2 separate regions of the Homo sapiens genome follow, and region 2 is linked to region 1. The links come from fine-mapping of genetic effects on plasma protein levels. A gene starts in region 1. The other region holds a variant in brackets. All regions are shown on one strand. Distances are between the middles of the regions. Region 1 holds the start of CST6 (cystatin E/M). Region 2 has its middle 13 kb from the start of DRAP1.

What was found. PIP is the chance, under the fine-mapping model, that this variant and not a neighbour inherited with it causes the effect. The UK Biobank Pharma Proteomics Project read protein levels with antibody pairs (Olink). The fine-mapping took linkage between variants from a reference panel, not from the people measured, so its PIPs are less certain.
Region 2: its variant is fine-mapped to the plasma level of the CST6 protein (UK Biobank, PIP 0.96).

Annotation. Positions count from the first base shown.
Region 1 is chr11:66,005,904-66,016,241 of GRCh38, reverse strand. It overlaps CST6 (cystatin E/M), which reads right to left and starts at 4,234. Exons shown (of 3, transcript NM_001323.4): 1 at 3,958-4,234; 2 at 3,291-3,416; 3 at 2,737-2,925. The coding sequence starts at 4,197. The coding sequence ends at 2,842. RefSeq lists enhancers at 2,177-2,752, 7,138-7,932 and a silencer at 8,590-8,884.
Region 2 is chr11:65,927,106-65,937,443 of GRCh38, reverse strand. No RefSeq gene overlaps it. Among named protein-coding and RNA genes, the nearest start is that of DRAP1, 13 kb to the right of the region's middle. RefSeq lists enhancers at 1-207, 9,032-9,326, 9,041-9,470 and a cis regulatory region at 9,007-9,572. The variant GTTTT/T (reference allele first, on the strand shown) is at 5,645.

The DNA.
Region 1 (10,338 bases):
GGGCTGCTCAAGTCCTTCTGGCCTCAGGGCAAGGGGCGGGCAGGGATGTGTGGAGGACCCTGCTGCTGGGAGAGGGAAGCAGGGAATGAGGCTGAAGGCTGCGCCCCATTGCCTGCTCTAGGACTTAGATGACCTCCCCGACTGATAGCCTGAGCCTAGGCTGGATGTCCAGAGCCCCTGTCCCCATGGCTGGGGGTGACAGTGGGACACTGGCCTATGCTGGGTGCTGGAGACCTAGCACTGAGTCAAGTTCAAGCCTCGCCCTGGCCCCAGGGGTCTCTCCTTAAGTGGAGGGTTTTCCATTATCTACAACAGCCATCTCACCTCTAGTAGAGGCGAATCCAGGGTGCAGTTCAGGCCGGAGGGAGTCAGGAGCGGGAGCTGAAGGGCAATAGTTTTTTGCCAACCCTCCCATCTCTGGACCAGACCAGTCAGTGCTGGAGCTTCCAGGGTCCCAGGACAGAAGAAGCACCTCCCCTCCCTGGTCTGGCGGAAGGCACTGGCTGGCCCAGGGCCCAGGGCCCAGGAATAGACTATGCGGAGGAAATGCCATCTGGGATTTGGGCACAGATTCCAGGGGCGGAGAGGTCACCGGGCAGGCGTCTCTGGGCCTTGCTTCTCTCCACCACCTCACACATTCATTCAACAGGCATTTCCTGCCACCCACCCTGTGCCTGCCCCATGCTGGGAGTCCCTGCTTGGTGGCACATGGGAGCCCTTCCAAGCAGCAGGCCCCGCACACACCCTGGGCTGTCTGAGCTGCCACATCTGACAAGCTTGAGCAGAAGCAGGGCTGGATGTTGTCTCCTGGGTCCCCAGCTCCTGTCAAATGCCACCCCTCAGCTTCTCACTCCCAGGTGGGACCCAGGGTCTACTTCCCGTTTCCCCGTCTCTACCCCAATCTGGCCTCCAAAGGCCGACAGCAGGGCCTGGGAGCTGGGGCTGCTGCTTATTAGGCCCCAGCCTTGGGCAGGGGACCAGGCAGGCACAAGCAGGGTGTGAGGCCTTGTCAGAAAGGAAGGACCGTGGGATGCTCTCCGCAGCCACTGCAGTGCTGCCTGCCTGGGCCTGATGGTGCCTATACCTAGCACCCCCAAGGCCCATATCCCAAGTGTGGGTGTGTGCTTGTGCATCTGAGGAACCTCTGGGTGTGGCATGTGGGTCCTTGGGTTGTGTTTGAGTTTTGTGTGTACATCTCCAGGTTGTTTCTCTAGGGTGTGTTGCTTCTGTGCTCATGAGTTGCTAGGCTGTGTTTCTCTGGGTATGCATGTGATATCTGCCAGCATCTGAGTGTGTGCTCTGGGTGTCTGTGTGTGTATGTCTGGTGTGTTGTGCTTTGGGTGTGTGCGTGTGTATATGTATGGGGGGGTATGAATTGCAGCCACAAATTCAGATGTGCAAATGTTGCAATGCTGTTTTCTTCTTCTTTTTTTATTTTTAATTTTTTTGAGATGGAGTCTCGCTCTGTCTCCCAGACTGGAGTGCAGTGGCGCAATCTCGGCTCACTGCAACCTCTGCCTCCTGGATTCAAGCGATTCTCCTACCTCAGCTTCCTGAGTAGCTGAGATTACAGGCACCTGCCACCACACCCAGATAATTTTTGTATTCTTGGTTGAGATGGGATTTCACCATGTTGGCCAGGCTGGTTTTTTTTTTTTTTTTTTTTTTTTTGAGATGGAGTCTGGCTCTGGCGCCCAGGCTGGAGTGCAGTGGCGCCATCTCGGCTCACTGCAAGCTCCACCTCCCGGGTTCACGCCATTCTCCTGCCTCAGCCTCCCGAGTAGCTGGGACTACAGGCGCCCGCCACTACACCCAGCTAATTTTTTGTATTTTTAGTAGAGACGGGGTTTCACCGTGTTACCCAGGATGGTCTCGATCTGCTGACCTCGTGATCTGCCCGCCTCGGCCTCCCAAAGTGCTGGGATTACAGGCGTGAGTCACCGCGCCCGGCCACCAGGCTGGTCTTGAACCCCTGACCTCAGGTGATCCATCCACCTCAGCCTACCAAAGTGCTGGGATTACAGGTGTGAGGCCGGCTGCAATGCTGTTTTCTTTAAATGACATTACATTGAATCTGTCCCCTCACCCCTCCTGTGGGCGCTAGACAATCTCTGTCCCTCTGCGGCTCCTAGTCTAGCCCCTTTCAGGCGTCTTGCCCAGGGCAAGGCAAGAGAGGCGTCCTTGTGGCGTGGAGCCCACAGTGTGGACTGAGAGGCACTGTCCTAGCCTTCATGGTCTCTTGGCCTGCAGGGACTCTGCCATCGTTGGGCCACATGCAGGTGGAGGAATCTTTATAGGCTGGGAGCTCAGTGTCCTGGGTGAGGACACTGCCTGATTGAAGCCCCCCATGCCACCCATGAGCTCCTCCTGGGGCTGAGTGGGAGCACAGCACAGACTCCTCCTCAGAGTGCTCCCAGGCAGCCGGCCCTGTTCTTATCTCAGGCCATCGCCCCTCCTCTGTGAGTCTGCCGCCACCCCTGACCTCTGAGAATATTGGGAGTCTCTGGCTGTGTGTGGGGGCTCTAAGGTTTGTTCCTCTATGCCTGTGATGCTGGGGTGTTTGGGGGCTCCACATTTGGAGGCTCAGCCCTGCACCTTCAGCACTGTCTGGGCTGGGACAGCAGCAGCTCTGCTGCAGGTGGCAGGGTGACCTCTCAGCTTGGGCTGGGGAGCTGGGAGCTGCCAGAAGTGGGAGTGGGGGATGGGGGCAGAAGCGAAGCACTTGGAAGAAACCAATGCAAGAAGCAGCACTGGCCATTTATTGTGACAGATACGGCCCACGGACCTGAAGTGCCCTCCACCATGGCCCCAAACCCAATGGCCTTCGCCCTCGGGGACTTATCACATCTGCACACAGTTGTGCTTTAGGAGCTGAGAGGAGTTCTGCCAGGGAACCACAAGGACCTCAAAGTCACAGCGCAGCTTCTGTGGAGGGAATATGGGGGAGAAGGAGGGGTGAGCCCAGCCTCGACCTGTCTCCTCCCAACAGCCAGCCCTCTGCCTGCCAGGCTGCTCCAGGCCAAGAGAGGGACAATCACTGACCCAACGGATGTCAAGCCGCATGTCTGGGGCTAGACTCCAGATCTTGGTAGCCAACTTCCCCATTCCCGAGGGAAGCCCCAGCTTCCTTTCTGCACCCCATCTTGGCCCAGAGGCTGACTCATCCAGAAGGACGACAGGTTCAGCCAGACATCTAGACATCTACGTGTCCAGCCAAACCAGTTCAGGATGGACAACCTGAGTGCCTGAGGCTCTGGGGAGGGCTGGGGCTGGAGGAGCCCAGCTGTTACCTCCTGCTGCGCCCCTGCTGCCAGGGGGCAAGTGGTGAGGTCGACGTGGTCTCCAGTGACCCTGGTCTTGCGGCAGTCTGTGCTCCCCATCTCCATCGTCAGGAAGTACTTGATGCCGGCCACCAGCTGGGGGCATAGGGTAGGGGCAGGTCAGGGGTCTTGACCCTTGATCCTCACTTCTCACCTCTTGATATATTCTCCTGTTGCCCCCAGGCACTCAGGTGGGGAGAGAGGGAGAGGGGATGATTCAGACGGGGTGGGGGGGGGTGGGGGGGGGTGGGGGGGGGAGTTCTGGTGGGGATGGAGGGTGGAGAGGCCTGGAGGCTGAGCCCCACCAGCAGCCTTGGCAGACATCAGACATGCCCCATCTAGGGAGCTGCCCACTGTCCCCACCTGCCTTCCCTCCTCCCCGATCCACCCCATCAGGGCAGAGACTAGGACCAGGCAAGCCAGGAAGGCAGGTAGTGCAATACAGGGTTTAATTATGTCTTTCCTTGAAATTTAGATGGTTGTCCATCGTGGAGTTTTAGCATTAATTCGATTTTTAAAATATTGCATGAAAATATCCCGATTGCGCTTTTAGGCCCCCTTCATGCACGCTGGGGCAGCGCCTGTGGCCTCCCCCATCTGGGCCGGGTGTCCCCTCCCAGCACCCCGCCCGCCGCACCTGGCTCTGCGCCTTGATGATGTGCGTGTCTCGGAAGTAGTAGATGCTGTTGCTGCCCATGTTGTAGCTGGCCACGGCCGCCTGCGCCGCCTTCTGCACCTGCGGGTCGTCGGGCGACAGGTCCCGGAGTTCTCCGACCATGCGCTCCTGCGGCCGGGCCCGGGCGTCGCGTGGCAGCGCCAGGAGGCAGAATGCGACCAGGGCCAGGCCCAGCGCCAGCGGGAGGTTCGAACGCGCCATGGCCGTCAGTGCCGTCGGAGCCCTCAGAGCCGTGAGTGCCGAGCTTGCGGCCGCGCAGCTTTTACCCGCTGGGCCGCCCCGCCCGACGCCCGCGATGCGCCCCCGCGGCCTGGAGCTGGGGCGGGGCTCGAAGTTGCCGGGGTCCTGCGAGGTTCAGGGAGCCCAGGAGGCCGAGGGGGCGGCGCGCACCCGCGTGCCAAGACGCTTCCCTGCCCTCCAGGACACACCTGGCCCGGGGAGGGAGAGGACAGCGACAGTCCCCAGCAACAAGTGCCAGTACAGGGACGGTTCACGGGAGGGCTGTCCAGAATGAACTACCAACCGCAGCTCTTCGTGGGCTCTTACTGTTGCCACCATTTCCTAGCTGTGTAACCTCGGAGAAGTCACTTAACCACTCGCTGCCTCAGTTTCCTCTTCTGTACAATGGGTGTTGTGAGGATTCAGTGAGCTGAAACAGGTAAAGTTCTTAGAAGAGGTCTGGTGCTGGATAAACAGCAGGTGAGTAGGACACATTACTGCTCAGCGCTGCCTGACAACCTTCCTGGAGCGCGAGTGACTAATGTTTCTACCTGGCCAGGCACCTAGGCATGCTTGTAATTCCAGCACTTTGAGAGGCCAAGGTGGGAGGACCACTTGAGCCAAGGAGTTCAAGTCAGTGAATCGTGATCTCACCACTGCAGCATTCCAGCCTGGGCGACAGAGCTAGACGCTGACTCAAAAAAAAAAAAAAAAAAAAAAAAAAAAAAGAAGGCCGGGCATGAGGGCTCACACTTGTAATCCCAGCACTTTGGGAGGCCGAGGCAGGCAGATCACTTGAGGTCAGGAGTTCAAGACCAGCCTGGCCAACATGGTGAAACCCCGTCTCTACCAAAAATACAAAAATTAGCCAGGCGTGGTGGCACACACCTGAATTCCCAGCTACTCAGAAGGCTGAGGCAGGGGAATTGCTTGAACCTGGGAGGCAGAGGTTGCAGTGAGCCAAAATGGCACCACTGCGCTCTAGCCTGGGTGACAGAGAGAGACTCTGTCTCACAAAAAAAAAAAAGAAAAAAGAAAAAAAATAGTTTCCACTTTACAGAGAAGGGAAAATGGATTTGCCCAAAGACACCGGCAGGAAATAAATGGTGACACTGGCTTGTGTGTGCTGACAGTCTAAGTCAAATCTGTGGTCTTAAACCAGACTGAGCCCACAGGACACAAACTGCCCAGAAGGAGGGGGTGTCAGTCATGTCAGCTCTGCCATCTTACTGACGGCATGGCTTTGGGCAAGTCCCTCAACCTCCCACACAGAGCCTCCGTGCCCTCGTCTGAAAGACACCTTATCTCCTAAGTTTGTTCTGATATTGATGTTTCGAATCTGGCTGTCCCGTGGATACAGTGAGCATGTGCTGGAGGTACCAGCAAACAAGGCCCATGACTGTGTTTTTAAAGACTCCAATAATTGCCAGGTGTGGTGGCTCACGCCTGTAATCCCAGCACTTTGGGAGGCCGAGGTGGGCAGATCACTTGAGGCCAGGAGTTCGAGACCAGCCTGGCCAACATGGTGAAACCCCATCATAGCCCGCACGGACCTAGGGGGACTGAACAAAGCCGGGCAAACGTGGGAATAAAAGACAAGAGACAAAAGAGTATATTTGGAAGAAGGGGTCAGGGGGCACCTTGCCTCTAGTGGACAAGGGCCCTGAGCTTTACACAGCCCTCTGTATGTAGTAGGCAAAAGAGATAGCGAGAAAGGGGGAGGGTGATTGTCGGGTATGTCAGGTAATTGTCGGTCAGCACTTTGGTTCACAGCAGGCTTGTGAGACTGCATCCTTTGAACAATAGGTGCTAATTTTCTCAGTAGATAACTTCAGGGACCCCAGTGCCAAGGAGTAAGGCCCTCAGCAAACCTTTTGGTGGCAGGGCAGTGGGAGTTTGCCCACATCCTGCATTCGTGATAAACAGGTGGCTGTTTGATCATATAGCCTTCAGTGGAATGCTGAGTTGGTCACAATCCCTTTGGCCCTTTCGGCTCCCAACACCCCATCTCTACTAAAAATACAAAAATTAGCTGGGTGTGGTGGTGCACACCTGTAGTCTCAGCTACTTGGGAGGCTGAGGTGGGTGAATCACTTGAACCTGGGAGGCAGAGGTTGCAGTGAGCTGAGACGGCACCCACTGCACTCCAGCCTGGGTGACAGAGCAAGACTCTATCTCAAAAAAAAAAGACTCCAATAATTAATTGATTATTATTAATAGGTGGTGATCTATTAATCACACGGTAGCTCACACCTGTAATCCCAGGACTTTGGGAGTCGGAAGCAGGAGGATCACTTGAGGCCAGGAGTTTGAGACCAGCCTGGGCAACATAGTGAGCCGTCTCTACCAAAAAATCTAAAATAAATTAGCTGTGCATGGTGGTGCACGCCTGTGGTCCCAGCTACTCGGGAGGCTGAGGTGGGAGGATTACTAGAGTCTGGGAGGTCGAGGCTGCAGTGAGCAGTGATGGTGCCACTGCACTCCACCTGGGTGACAGAGCAAGACTCTGTCTCAAAAAAAAAAAGGAACAGATGAAAAGCAGTGTTGAAGTAGTCAACGCAAGAAAAGTCTGGATTTTGTTGAATTTTTTTTTTTTTTTGTGACAGCGCTCTGTCAGCCAGGCTAGAGTGCAGTGGCGCTATCATAGCTCACTATAACTCGACTTCCTGGCTTCAAGCTATCCTCCCATCTCAGCCTCCCAAGTAGCTGGGACCACAGGCGCATGCCCCCATGCCTGGTTAATTTTTTTCCACACCTGGCTAATTCTTATATTTTTTTGTAGAGATGGGGTCTCACAGTAGTGCCAGGTGGGTCTCGAATGCCTGGCCTCAAGAGATCACGAGATCCTCCCACCTCAGCTTCCCAAAATGCTGGGATTACAGGCAGGCCTTGGAATTATTTGTCTGCATTTTAGAGTTCAGTGTAGTTTGTATTTGTAATTCCATGTTGCTGGGGGGCGGGGCTTATTGTCCCTGGGGCACTAAGATCTTGCAGTGCTTAGAGCCTCCAGGGGCTTCACTGGGGCTTGGAAGAGGTGCTAGGTCACAGTACGTAAAGAGCAGCTGGCAACTGTCACTGTGATGGATATTGTATGTAGGCATCCAGCGTGTCACCCTCCCTTCCTGATTCTGGGCCTTAGAATCCCAGGACCACAAAAGGAAGTGATTTCCCACACAGAGACCTAGACCACAGCGGTCACTCACTGCCCAGGGCAGCTGCCAGCCTGCTACCCACCTCACTTCCTCAGCCCAGCTGTGGAAAACCAACTCTGCCATCTTCCTGGGATTCCAAGGAACCGTCACAAGTTCCTGGCGGCCTCAGGTGTCTGGCTTAAAGGGACAGACTCCAGTTTGTGGAAGTGCTGGCCGAGCTTGAGTTGATCAGGAGGATGACGCCTGGCCAGGACTCTGAGCTGAAAGCCTGGGAGGGGTAGAGGAAGAGTACCAGGATCGTGCCACAGGGGCGAGGTGGGAGAGGCAGCTCCCCTGGGCCTGCTGTGTCATCACTTGGAGCTTAGCCATGGCCACAGGTACCTCCAACAGCTCTCTCAAAAACTAGCCAAGGCCTGTCTGCCACTCACCAAGGGCACCCACTCCACCTGCCTCTGCTTTGTGCTGATGCAAAGGACTTTTTTTGCAGTACAACCTAGCAATTTCTGAGCACTTTTCACCCACTGATTCTCACAAGCACCCTGAGGGAGTACACATTATCCTCACTTTGCAGATGAAGAAGTTAATCAGAGAGGTCGGGACACTTGTCTAAGGTCACACAGCTAGAAGTGGTATCTTGGTAAGAAAAGGTGGGGAGGATTAACAATGGTAAGAACTCTTGCTGTGTGCCAGGCCTTGCGCCAGGGATTCAATATATGTTCTTTCATTCCCATAGCAGCTCTGCACAGACAATGACTATTATCTCTTCCTACAAGGAGGAAATGGGAGATCAAAGGGGAAAGGTTAGTGGTGGGTCCCGGTGCATGAGTCCTGGGCTGCTCCACAGGGGTTTGAGGTCTGCTGTGCATGGTGTAGGGGTTGTTTCTTGCAGATGGGGTGTCCCTGAGCAGACTTTCCCAGGGCCTGACTCCATCCCGTCTGGACCACTCTGGCTTCCAGGAGGTTTGCGCCAAGCGTGAGCTTGAGGTCGGTCAAATGTACTGGCCACAGGGCAGAGCCTCCAGTTTTGCAGTGGCCCAGACATCCCACCCCAGGTTGTCCACAGCACCCCTCTCTTGCCCCTGGCCTGATGGGTGGAGATGACCAGGGCAGGTTCTTGACATCTCCTTCCCTCTGGGATCAGGCTCTCCAAGGCTTCGATGCTTCCCCCAGAACCCTCTTCCTTGAACCTTCAGTTGGGCAGAGGATATTGCCCTCCCCCCAGGGCTCTGTAGCCCCATATCCTGGAAAGGAGATCTTTCAGCAAGGAAACCTGTAATCCAACAGGGATTAAAGCTCCCCTCTGGGGAGGAGCGCTCCTAAGCGCTGCTGATTCACTGGTTGAATCTTCACAACCCTGTTATCAGCTGGCAGAGGAGGCTGTAGCTCAGGGGAGTGAAGCAACTTGCTCCAGATCGCATGGGGAGCAAAGCCCCAGAATCGGGCCTGGCTGGCTCTTCAAGGCTGCCACCAGTCAAGGTTGGGAGTGACAGGAAAGAGCCCTGGTCCCCACAGGGAGGGGCCAGCCTGGAAAGGGATCAACAGTCACAAGCACCTGCTGGGAGCCTTCCATGCTCAGCAGGCTGCCGGGGGCAGGGCTTGTGGTGGTCCAGGTAGCCTCCCCCTACTTCCTTTCTGGGGGCAGCAGGAGCCCTTCAGCACCCCAGAGTGCATGGGCTGGGTTCACACGAAGTTCTAGGCTGGCTCTGAGCACTCATGACTAGACCAGCTGAGGGGGTCAAGCTCTGGCTGGGTGTGATGGGGGGATGGGGTCAGTATTTGCTGATTTCTGGGCCCACCTATGTCCCAGGCTAGTGGGTGGCCAGGCATGTCCTCTTGGACACCACGGGCTGACACTGAGACAACCTGACTCATACCCCTCACCAGCCAGGTCTGCTTTCTGCGCCAGCATTCCAAGCCGTGGTCCCTTTGTCCTGCTGGCTGAGTCGGGCTGGATCTGAGAGGCCACACTGTCACAAGGTACATTCTAGATGCCCTTTGTCTACTGCTGTCCCAGGACAGAGCCAAGAACTTGTGTGGGATGCAATATGGAGTCCTGATAAAGGGTTTGTGGCCTGCCACCTGGTATATGCACTGCCTGTGCCCCAAGGGAGAGGTGAGAAGGCAGGTTCCAGTCCCTTCTATGGCAAAGCCTGTGGGTGAGCCGGGAAAGGCAGACAACAAGGAAATAAAGCAGACAGCATGAGCCGCAGGCTTCCAGCAGGGTCCCAGTGCCACCAGGCGAGGCCAAACCAGGAGGCCAGCGTGGGCAGGAGCCCAGGGAAGGGCTTCATGGAGGAGGAGTCTCCATGACCTCACAGAGCACCAGCAACAAGCTGGCAGCATCAGGACTGAGGTGTGGTGAGGCCGGAGCCCTGCAAAGCCCCCACCTAAGCACACAAGGCCTGCGACAGCATCATAGCATGAGGGTCAAGGCTGAGGGGACTTAGCCGGGAAGACATCAGAAACAGTCTGAAACTCAAGAGAGAGCCCTCGTGACCACCTCAGCCGGGACTCAGACCAGCAGCCTCCCAGGAAGCGGCTTGAAGCACAAGCTGGGCCCTGCTGCAGTCACCTGGTGTCCCTTTCAAGCTGGGCCACTCGCACTTTCCAGTCCCAGCCTTGCACAGAACTCTCATCCCTACAAATAACAATTTAGTTTCTGACCTTTCACTCAATCGTTCCAGCCTCAGGTCTTTATTTTTGGTTTTCCTGTTATCTTTCTATTGTTGAGATGTAGCGAATACACTGAAAAGGGCGCAGAACATACACTTTTGGTCAATGCCTGTACCACCACCCCATAGGTCAGAAACACAGGTCAGGGTAGGCCAAGCCTACCCTTAAGCCCTTCCACACCCTCCCCCAAAGATAATCCCTGTAGACTTTTTCCTTTACTATTTACCATAATCATTTCCTTTGTTTTCCTTCTAGTTTTACCATCTATGTAGGAATTCCTAAGAATTTGTTTGTCTTC
Region 2 (10,338 bases), 79 kb after region 1:
CTATTTAAATGTGAATAGGCTGGGCGTGGTGACTCATGCCTGTAATCCCAGCACTTTGGGTGGCCGAGGCAGGTGGATCACTTGAGGTCAGGTGTTCGAAACCAGCCTGGCCAACATGGTGAAACCCCATCTCTACTAAAAATACAAAAATTAGCCAGGCGTGGTGGCACGTGCCTGTAATCCCAGCTACTCAGGAGGTTGAGGCAGGAGAATTGCTTGAACATGGGAGGCAGATGTTGCAGTGAGCTGAGAACATGCCACTGCATTGTAGCCTGGGCAACAGAGCAAGACTCTGAAAAAAATAAATAAATAAAGAGAGAAAGAAAGAAAGAGAGAGAGAAAGAAAGAAAGAAAGAAAAAGAAAGAAAGAAAGATGTTAACGGATCATTGTGAAGCTTTTATCATTTTTGTGTGTATGTATTTTTTGTTTATGTAAGTGGTATTGTGGTCCGGGTGCAGTGGCTCACGCCTGTAATCCCAGCACTTTGGGAGGTCAAGGTAGGTGGATTGCTGGAGTTCAGGAGTTGGAGACCAGCCTGAGAAACATGGTGAAACCCCAGCTCCACAAAAATATACAAAGAAATTAGCTGGGCATGGTGGCGTGTCCCTGTAGTTCCAGCTACTCGGGAGGCTGAGGCGGGAGGATCACCTGCGCCCAGGAGGTTGAGGCTGCAATGAGCTATGATCACACCACTGCACTCCAGTCTGGGTGACAGAGTGAAACCCTGTCTCAAGAAAAACATAAAAAATAAAACTAAGTATAAAAATAAATAAATGGTATTGTATGTATTTAATTTGCATAAGCAGTATTGATCTCATTTTTGTTCCTTACTCGTTTCCTTCAAAACTGTGCTTTAGGGTTTTTAAAATTTATTTTATTTTCTAGAGATAAGGCCTCACTCTGTCACCCAGGCTGGAGTGCAGTGGTGTGATTATAGCTCACTGCAGCCTCGAACTCCTGGGCTCAGGTGATCCTCTACCACAACCACAACGTCCTGAGTAGCTTGGACTACAGGCATGTGCCACCATGCCTGGCTACTTTAAAAAAAAATTAGTTTTGGAGAGACAGAGGTCTCACTATGCTGCCTAGGCTAATCTTGAACTCCTGGCCTCAAGGACTCCTCCCGCTTAAGCCTACTCAAAATGCTAGAATCAGGCTGGGCAAGGTGGCTTATGCATGTAATCCCAGCACTTTGGGAGGCCGAGGCAGGTGGATTACTTGAGGTCAGGAGTTCAAGACAAGCCTGGCCATCACTGTGAAATCCCGTCTCTACTAAAAATACAAAAATTAGTCGGGCATGGTGGCACACACCTGTAGTCCCAGCTAACTCAGGAGGCTGAAGCAGGAGAATCACTTGAACCCAGGCAGAGGTTGCAGCTAGCTGAGATCACACTACTGCACTCCAGCCTGGGTGACAGAACAAGACTCCATCTCAGAAATAAATAAATAAATAAATAAAAGCTGGAATTAGGCTGGGCGCGGTGGCTCACGCCTGTAATCCCAGCACTTTGGGAGGCCGAAGAGGGAGGATCACGAGGTCAGGAGATTGAGACCATCTTAGCTAACATGGTGAAACCCCGTCTCTACTAAAAATACAAAAAATTAGCCGGGCATGGTGGCGGGCGCCTGTAGTCCCAGCTACTCGGGAGGCTCAGGCCAGAGAATGGCGTGAACCCGGGAGGCAGAGCTTGTAGTGAGCCAAGATCATGCCACTGCACTCCAGCCTGGGCAACAGAGCGAGACTCCTTCTCAAAAAAAAAAAAAAAAAGCTGGAATTATAGGCATGAATCACCATGCCCCATCGTTTTGTTTTTAGAGACAAGGTCTCATATTGCCCAGGCTGGCCTCAAACTCCTGGGGTCAAGAGATCCTCCCGCCTCAGCATCCCAAGTATCTGGGATTATGGGCACATGCCACCCTCCGCTGCTAACACTGTGGTTTTTGTTTTTGTTTTTTGTTTTTTGATTTTTTTTTTTTTTGAGACAGAGTCTCGCTTTGTTGCCCAGGCTGGAGTGCAGTGGTGCAATCTTAGCTCGCTGCAACCTCCACCTCCCGGGCTCAAGCAATTCTCCTGCCTCAGCCTCCCAAGTAGCTGGGATTACAGACTTGCGTTACCATACCCAGCTAATTTTTGTATTTATTTTTTAGTAGAGACCAGGTTTCACCATGTTGGCCAGGCTGGTCTTGAACTGCTGACCTCAGGTGATCCGCCCGTCTCGGCCTCCCAAAGTGCTGGGAATACAGGCGTGAGCCACTGTGCCTGGCCCGCACTGTGTTTTAAAAGCCTTGTAGATCCTGACTGTTGCATAGTGTTCCGTAGTTTCCCTTTGTATGCTTTACTTAATTCATCCTTCTGACAATGGATGCCAGACTGGCTCCCAAGTCCTGTTCTCACAAAGAACACCGTGGTCAACACCGCTGCACATGCCTCTTTGTACACCTGAATGAGAATCTCTCTGGCCTACTTATCCAAGGCTGAGAGTGTAAGGTCTTGGCATAAACATACACCTAATTTCAGATTGCTTGAGAGAAGGGCTGTCAGTTTATGTGCCTACAGAAGACCAAGGATTTCTGTCTGCCCACATTCTCACCAAACATTGACATTATTCACCTTATGAATTTTGACTAACCCTGGGGTCATAAAATGAGGTCTGGTACTTTTTTTTTTTTTTCGAGACGGATTCTCGCTCTCTCGCTCTGTTACCCAGACTGGAGTGCAGTTGTGCAATCTCAGCTCACTGCAACCTCCACCACCCACGTTCAAAACAATTATCCTGCCTCAGCCTCCCGAGTAGCTGGGATTACAGGTATGTGCCACCACGACTGGCTAATTTTTGTAAAGATGGGGTTTCACCATGTTGGCCAGGCTGCCCTCGAACTCCTGACCTCAAGTGATTCACCCACCTTGGCCTCCCAAAGTGCTGGGATTACAGGTGTGAGCCACCGTGCCTGGCCAGAAATCCTTAATCTTTTTTTAAGTCTGGTAAAAAAAAAATCTTTAATTTTGATGGAGTTAGACTCATAAATGTTTTTGAATAGAGCTTTGTATTTTGAGAGTCTTTCTTTTCCTATCCCTAGGTGGGGTATTTTCCTATATTCTATTCTATTAGTTTACGCTTAACATCTGTGTCCATAACGAAATGCTCTGTGTACAGACTTTTCTGATACTGTCTTTATCTGGCTTGCGGGGGTCATACAAGAAATTGGGCAGCCTTCTCTCTTTCTGGCTTCTGTAACAACTGGTGTGAGATAAGGACCATCTGTTCCTCCAAAGGCTGGTAGAACTGCCCTATAAAAACATTTCTATTGGGTTTTTTCACATTGGAGTCTCAGATTACAAGTTTCTTTTTCTTTTAGTTTTTTTTTTTTTTTTTTTTTTGAGATGGAGTCTTGCTCTGTCGCCCAGGCTGGAGTGCAGTAGAGTGATCTCGGCTCACTGCAACCTCCACCTCCCAGGTTCAAGTGATTCTCGTGCCTCAGCCTCCCAAGTAGCTGGGATTACAGGCATGTGCCACCACATCCGGGTAATTTTTGTATTTTTAGTAGAGACAGAGTTTCACCATGTTGGCCAGGCTGGTCTCGAACTCCCAACCTCAGGTGATCTGCCTGCCTTAGCCTCCCAAAGTACTAAGATTATAGGCGTGAGCCACTGTGCCCGGCCTATTGTAGTGTTGTTGTTGTTGTTGTTTTCCCAAGAGACAGGGTCTCGCTATGTTTCCCAGGCTGATTTTATATTCCTCGCCTCAAATGATCCTTCTGCCTTAGCCTCCCAAAGTGCTGAGGTTAGGACGGGTGCAGTGGCTCACACCTGTAATCCCAGCACTTCGGAAGGCTTAGCCAGGTGGATCACCTGAGGTCAGGAGTTCGAGACCAGCCTGGCCAACGTGGTGAAACTCTGTCTCTACTAAAAATACAAAAAAATTAGCTGGGCGTGGTGGCTGGCGCCTTTAATCCCAGCTACTCGGAAGGCTGAGGCAGGAGAATCGCTTGAAAATGGGAGGCAGGGGTTGCAGTGAGCCGAGATTGCGCCACCACACTCCAGCCTGGGCAATAAGAGTGAGACTCCATCTCAAAAACAAAATAAAACAAAGTGCTGAGGTCACAGGCATGAGCTACTCAATTTTCTTTCCTGGTTATGGGTCTACTGAAGTTTTGATATTTTTGTGCCAATTTTGACATTTCACATTCTTCCAGAAAGGTATTTACTTTGCTTAAGTTTCTATATTTACCAACATACAATTATTTGTAATGTTTTTTGGTATTTTGATATTTTATGTTATTTGGAAATGGGGTTTTGCTATGTTGCTCAGACTGGACTCAAATTCCTGGGCTAGAACGATCCTATTGAGTAGCTGGGACTACAGGTGTGTGCCACTGTGCCCAGGTTGGTATTTTGATATTTTAAACCTCCATGGGGGGCTGGGCACGGTGGCTCACACCTGTAATCCTAGCACTTTAGGATGCCGAGTTGGGCAGATCGCTTGAGGTCAGAGGTTTGAGATCAGCCTGGCCAACATGGTGAAACCCCGTCTCTACTAAAAAAATACAAAACAATTAGCCAAGTATGGTGGCACACACCTGTAGTCCCAGCTACTCGGAAGGCTGAGGCTCAAGAATCACTTGAACCCGGGAGGCAGAGGTTGCAGCAAGCTGAGATCGCGTCATTGTATTCCAGCCTGGGCGACAGAGTGAGACTCCGCCTCAAAAAAATAAATAAATAAACCTCCATGGGGGGGTGCTCAAGAGTCAGATCACGTGGGGCCTGGGAGCCAGGGAAAGGATTCTGGGTTTGTCCTAAGGATGAACAGCGTGCAAGAATATTTGACTGAGGCTCTAGAATGGAATGGATATGAAATGCCAAAGTGAAGTGCTTGCTCCTGGCCAAACTGCAAAATTTTAAAGAAAGCAGAAACCCATGTTGCCACTGTCGAAGCCCCTCATCCACCGCAAGAGTATAAAGGGATCGAGGGTGGATTTGAAAGGGGCAGTTTGCGGTGATTTGATTTGGAAAGAGCTGCTATGGCAGTGAGTCTGCAGGGGGTGGAGCTGGGGAGCTGCCTTCTAACCTCAAATCTGGTGAGAAGTGCTTCAAGGAAGCCCCCCAGAGCGCTTGAGGTGGGCTTCCTGCAGTCATGGCACCCCCGTGGGTCATTGGTAGGAAAGGCCTCCAGAAAGGAGGTGACCTGCAGTGGGCACTGGACCGCAGGAATGGAAAAAGGGGTCTGGCCCCACGGGCTTGTTTTCTCTGGCACAGGGTATGCAACAGAGTGGGGTAGTGCATGCCACTTGAAAGAAAACCAGAGCCAGTCAACAGAGAGGGGCTGCCCCTTTGCCAGGAGTTTCAGTCAAGGGGGTAGTACATAAGGGAGCCCATAAAACCCCTGAGGGCAGGAGCCAGCTTTAGACAGCTGCCACCCAAGGAGTGAGATGCCATCTTACACCAGTGTCAATCCAGGATGCACTCTCTGCACCCACTGCCCTCCCTCCCTGTTCTCCAAAGGCAGCGTCTTCTCAAGCCTGGGAATGGGGCCAGGGAGAGGCGCAGACCCGACTTCCCTGACTCCTTATCAGTGGGGGCTGCAATGGCCAGAAGTGGAAAAAGCTGTGTTCGTTTTTTTTGTTTGTTTGTTTGTTTGTTTGTTT[GTTTT/T]GAGACAAGCTCTCGCTCTGTTGCCCAGGCTTGAGTGCAGTGGTGCTATCTTGGGTCCCTGCAGCCTCAAACTCAAGCGATCCCTGCAGCCTCAGCCTCACGACCAGCTGGGACTACAGGTGCGTACTACCACGCCCAGCCCAAGAATACTTCATTCTAAATCAAGTTCTGGGATTTGGCCACTACACAAAACTGGGCACTTTAATAGAGATTTGTTTAGTAACTTTAGGTGATCACAGGACGATGAGGAAATGGCAGCATAAGATGTAATGGCTGCACTCCCTCTGGCTGTGAGTAGAAATTAGACTGGAGGGCCTGGGGTGGAAACAGTGGCCTGTCATCCAGGAAGTGGGAGGGGAGGGGAAGGGAGGGGAAGGGAGGGCAGGGGAGAGGTCTGAGCCTGGGCCCACCACCATTCAGAGGTCAAGAGAGGTCAGGGAGATGTGGCCATGGAGACAAGACCACAGCCCACGGTGGGGAAGAAGATTGCCAAGAGAGGCCGGGCGCGGTGGCTCACGCCTGTAATCCCAGCACTTTAGGAGGATGAGGCGGCGGATCACAAGGTCAGAAGATCGAGACCATCCTGGCTCATACGGTGAAACCCCGTCTCTAGTAAAAATAAAAAAAATTAGCCATGCGTGGTGGCGGGCGCCTGTAGTCCCAGCTACTCGGGAGGCTGAGGCAGGAGAATGGTGTGGACCCGGGAGGCGGAGCTTGTAGTGAGCCGAGATGGCGCCACTGCACTCCAGCCTGGGTGAGAGTGCGAGACTCCGTCTCAAAAAAAAAAAAAGATTGCCAAGAGAGTGAGGGCCCCCATCCAAGTGAAGAAAGTGTTTCAAAGAGGAGGCAAGCGACCAACTATGACAAGAGCCACTGAGAGGTCAAGGCGAGCCCAAATGAGAACAACTGAATCGCCTGGACCCATTCTCCAAGGACTCATTGTGGGAGGCTTATTACAGGCTTTGGCTGTGCGAATGCGGCTGAGATTGGCCTTCACCACATCACACCGCAGGCCCCATCTGAAACTGTTCTTTTGCAGCTAAAGTCTAGGAAAAAATTTCTTTCCACTGAAGAAGTTTTCTCCGGAAAAAAAAAAAAAAGTTTTTTGCTTTGGCTGCCAGAAAGCTCAGAACTAAATTTGATATTGAATTAATAAAGCACTTTTACAGGCCTTTATGGGTTGCATATTTATATATGTATGCTATTGTTTCTGATCTTTATTTTCTCTTTTAATTATATTTTATTATTTTATTTAAAAAATTTTTTAATAATTTTTTTAGAGACAGGGTCTCACTATGTTGCCTAGGCTGGTATCAAACTCCTGGCCTCAAGTGATCCTCCTGCCTTGGCCTCCCAAAGTGCTGGGATTATGGTGTGAGCCATCCCATGTGGCCTAAATTTTTTTTTTTTTTTTTTTTTTCAGATAGAGTTTCGCTTTGTCACCAGGCTGGAGTGCAGTGGCACGATCTTGGCTCACTACAACCTCCATCTCCCGAGTTCAAGAGATTCTGCTGCCTCAGCCTCCCGAGTACCTGGGGCTGCAGGCGTGCACCACCACACCCAGCTAATTTTTGTATTTTTAGTAGAGACAGGGTTTCACCATGTTGGTCAGGATGGTCTCGATCTCTTGACCTCGTGATCCGCCCTCCTCAGCCTCCCAAAGTGCTGGGATTACAGGCATGAGCCACCACACCCGGCCTAAAATTTTTTGTTTTTAGAGATAAGATCTTGCTATGTTGCCCAGTCTGGACTCACATTCCTGGTCTCAAGTGATCCTCCCTCCTCGGGCCTCCAGAGTAGCTGGGAGTGCACCACTGGTAGCACGGGTGTATACCACTGCACCCATCCACATTCTTGAATCTCCATTTCTGTTTTTTAAATTTTACCTTCCTTGTTCTTGTTGGAAGCCACCTCAGGTGCACTGGGAATGTGGTTTGCAAATTAATCAATGGTATTTCATTTATTCGGCAAGCATACAATGATGTCTTGTAGTAGTCAGGTCTCTCTAGCATACAATTGGCCTAAATACATTATTAAAGATAAAAATAAATGTCTTCACCCATTCTCTGTTGCTTATAACAGAAAACCTGGAACTGGGTAATTTATTTAAAAAACGGAGTCTTGCTCTATCGCCCAGGCTGGAGTGCAGTGGTGCGATCTCGGCTCACTACAACCTCCACTGCCCAGGTTCTCGCAATTCTGCAGCCTCAGCCTCCTGAGTAGCTGGGATTACAGGCACCCACCACCACATCCAGCTAATTTTTGTATTTTTAGTAGAGATGGGGTTTTGCCATGTTGGCCAGGCTTGTCTTGAACTCCTGATCCCAGGTGATCTGCCTGCCTCAGCGTTCCAAAGTCCTGGGATTACAGGCGTGAGCGATTGCACCCGGCCACATGTGCTGTCTTGAGTCTCACGGCCACCCCTGACCAATGGCTGTGGGGAGGGTATCTTGACCAGCGGTCCTGGAGGTGCCACCTGGTTGGAGTGGGGTGGGCGTCAGTTCTCTAGGGATACGGATATGATTTGGGGTGGCCTGAAGGAAGAAGGGCAGGGCAGACCCATGCACAAAAACATGCCCACCACGTACCTACCACGTGCCAGGCCCTGTGAGACATCCTGGAGACACAGACGTGAATCCGACAGGCCCTGTGTCCCCAAGAGGGGCGCTTTCCAGAAGTGGAGGTGAAACCTGCAAGCACAGTTATCCCAGCCAGAGCATGGGAAGAAACTTGGAGAGGGGACAGGTGAAGGACTTGGGGAGTTCAAAGGATGAGGAGGGACTCTAGGTTCTGGCCTTGAGGAAGTAAGGTGAACTGAAATTGCCCTTTTTCTACAAACAGCTAAGAAACTGGACAAAGCACAGGAAACAAGTGTTTTCAGATATTAGACAAAGGGCAGCTCAGGGCTGTGATCCCTGAAAAACGGAAGATAAAGGGGAGGAGCCCTGACATTGCATAGGTGATTTTCCTACCACTGCACTGGGAGGGCAACCGTTGTTCTCACCGAGTTAAGAAGACGAGACCAGAGTTTGGGAAGGCTCATCTTCAGGGCTTCTGATCTAACTGAAGACAGGCCCAGATATGGGTATTTTAAAGTTCCCCAGGGTCGGCCGGGCACAGTGGCTCAGGCCTGTAATCCCAGCACTTTGGGAGGCCGAGGCGGGTGGATCACTTAAGGTCAGGAGTTTGAGACCAGCCTGGTCAACATGGTGAGAACTTGTCTCTACTAAAAATACAAAAAATTGCCAGGCGTGGTGGCGAGTAGCCTCCCCAGCTACTGGGGAGACTGAGGCAGAAAGGAGAATCACTTGAACCTGGGAGGCAGAGGTTGCAGTGAGCCAAGATCGCGCCACTTCACTCCAGTCTGGGAGACAGAATGAGACCCTGTCTCAAAAAAAAAAAAAAGAAAAAAAGAAAAAAAAGCTCCCCAGGGTTCTAAGATGTAGCCAGGGTTGAGAACCACTAGGCTAATCTGCAACTCCAGACAAAGGCGGAAGGGGGGCAGGGAACCCACAAAACAGAAACCAAACTCTAAGAAAACGGGTAAGAGGAAAGTGAAACCGACTCTGGGCACCAGGCTGGAATGGAAGAGCATCTGTGGCTAAAAACAGGGCAGCCGCACCCCCCTGGAGGAACCAGGGCCCTGCCCACCCACTTGCTTGCTGCGGCTTCAACACGCTGGCCTCCTCGGGGTCCCCTCTCCCCACTACCCCTGGAGAGGCGTGAATGTACCTATTTGTTTACCATCAGTCTGCTGCCCCTTCCCCCAACTGGACTGAGCTAGGGAGCAGAGGCTCTGTGTGTTTTCTCTGAGTTCACCTTCCCCAAGCCCAGAGCAGGGCCCGGCACAGAGTAGGTACTCAGCAAATATTTCTTGAGTGACTGAATGAAGACAATGTATGATCCCATGAATCCTGCAGGGCCATGCTTTACCCTGCCCTATGTGATGCTGTCCCCTGAGGTTGGGCCCATTCTGACAATGTCTTTTCTGTTTTTTCAACACAGGGTGCATAGAATCAAGCAGACATGCGCCTTAGTTTGGGGCACTCCATGCAGCCATAGGGCCCTGAAAAGCTTCCCTTTTCTTTTCTTTTTTGTTTGTTTGTTTGTTTGTTTGAGATGGAGTTTCGTTCCTGTTGCCCAGGTTGGAGTCCCATGGCACGATCTTGGCTCACCGCAACCTCCGCCTCCCGGGTTCAAGCAATTCTCCTGCCTCAGCCTCCCGAGTAGCTGGGATTACAGGCATGCGCCACCATGTCCGGCTAATTTTGTATTTTTAGTAGAGATGGGGTGTCTCCATGATGGTCAGGCTGGTCTGGAACTCCCAACCTCAGGTGATCCGCCCACCTTGGCTGCCCAAAGTGCTGGGATTACAGGCTTGAGCCACCACACCCAGCCTAAAGCTTCCCCTTTCAATGGACTCTCCCCTTCCCTGCATCCCAGTCCTACTCCTGCTGCTTTGAGCCACGACATCCCCTTGTCTGTTTAGTACATGCCCTTCCAATCTGCTTTCCAGGATCTTATTTCCATAAATGTCCATAACAGCAGGCACCATTTATTGGGTGCTTACTGTATGCCAGGCACTGTGCTGAGCGACTTACATATCATATCTCATGAAACCATCACATGTCCCTGAAGGAGGTGCTATTATGATCCCCGTTTTACAGATTAGAAAATAGAGATAGGCTGG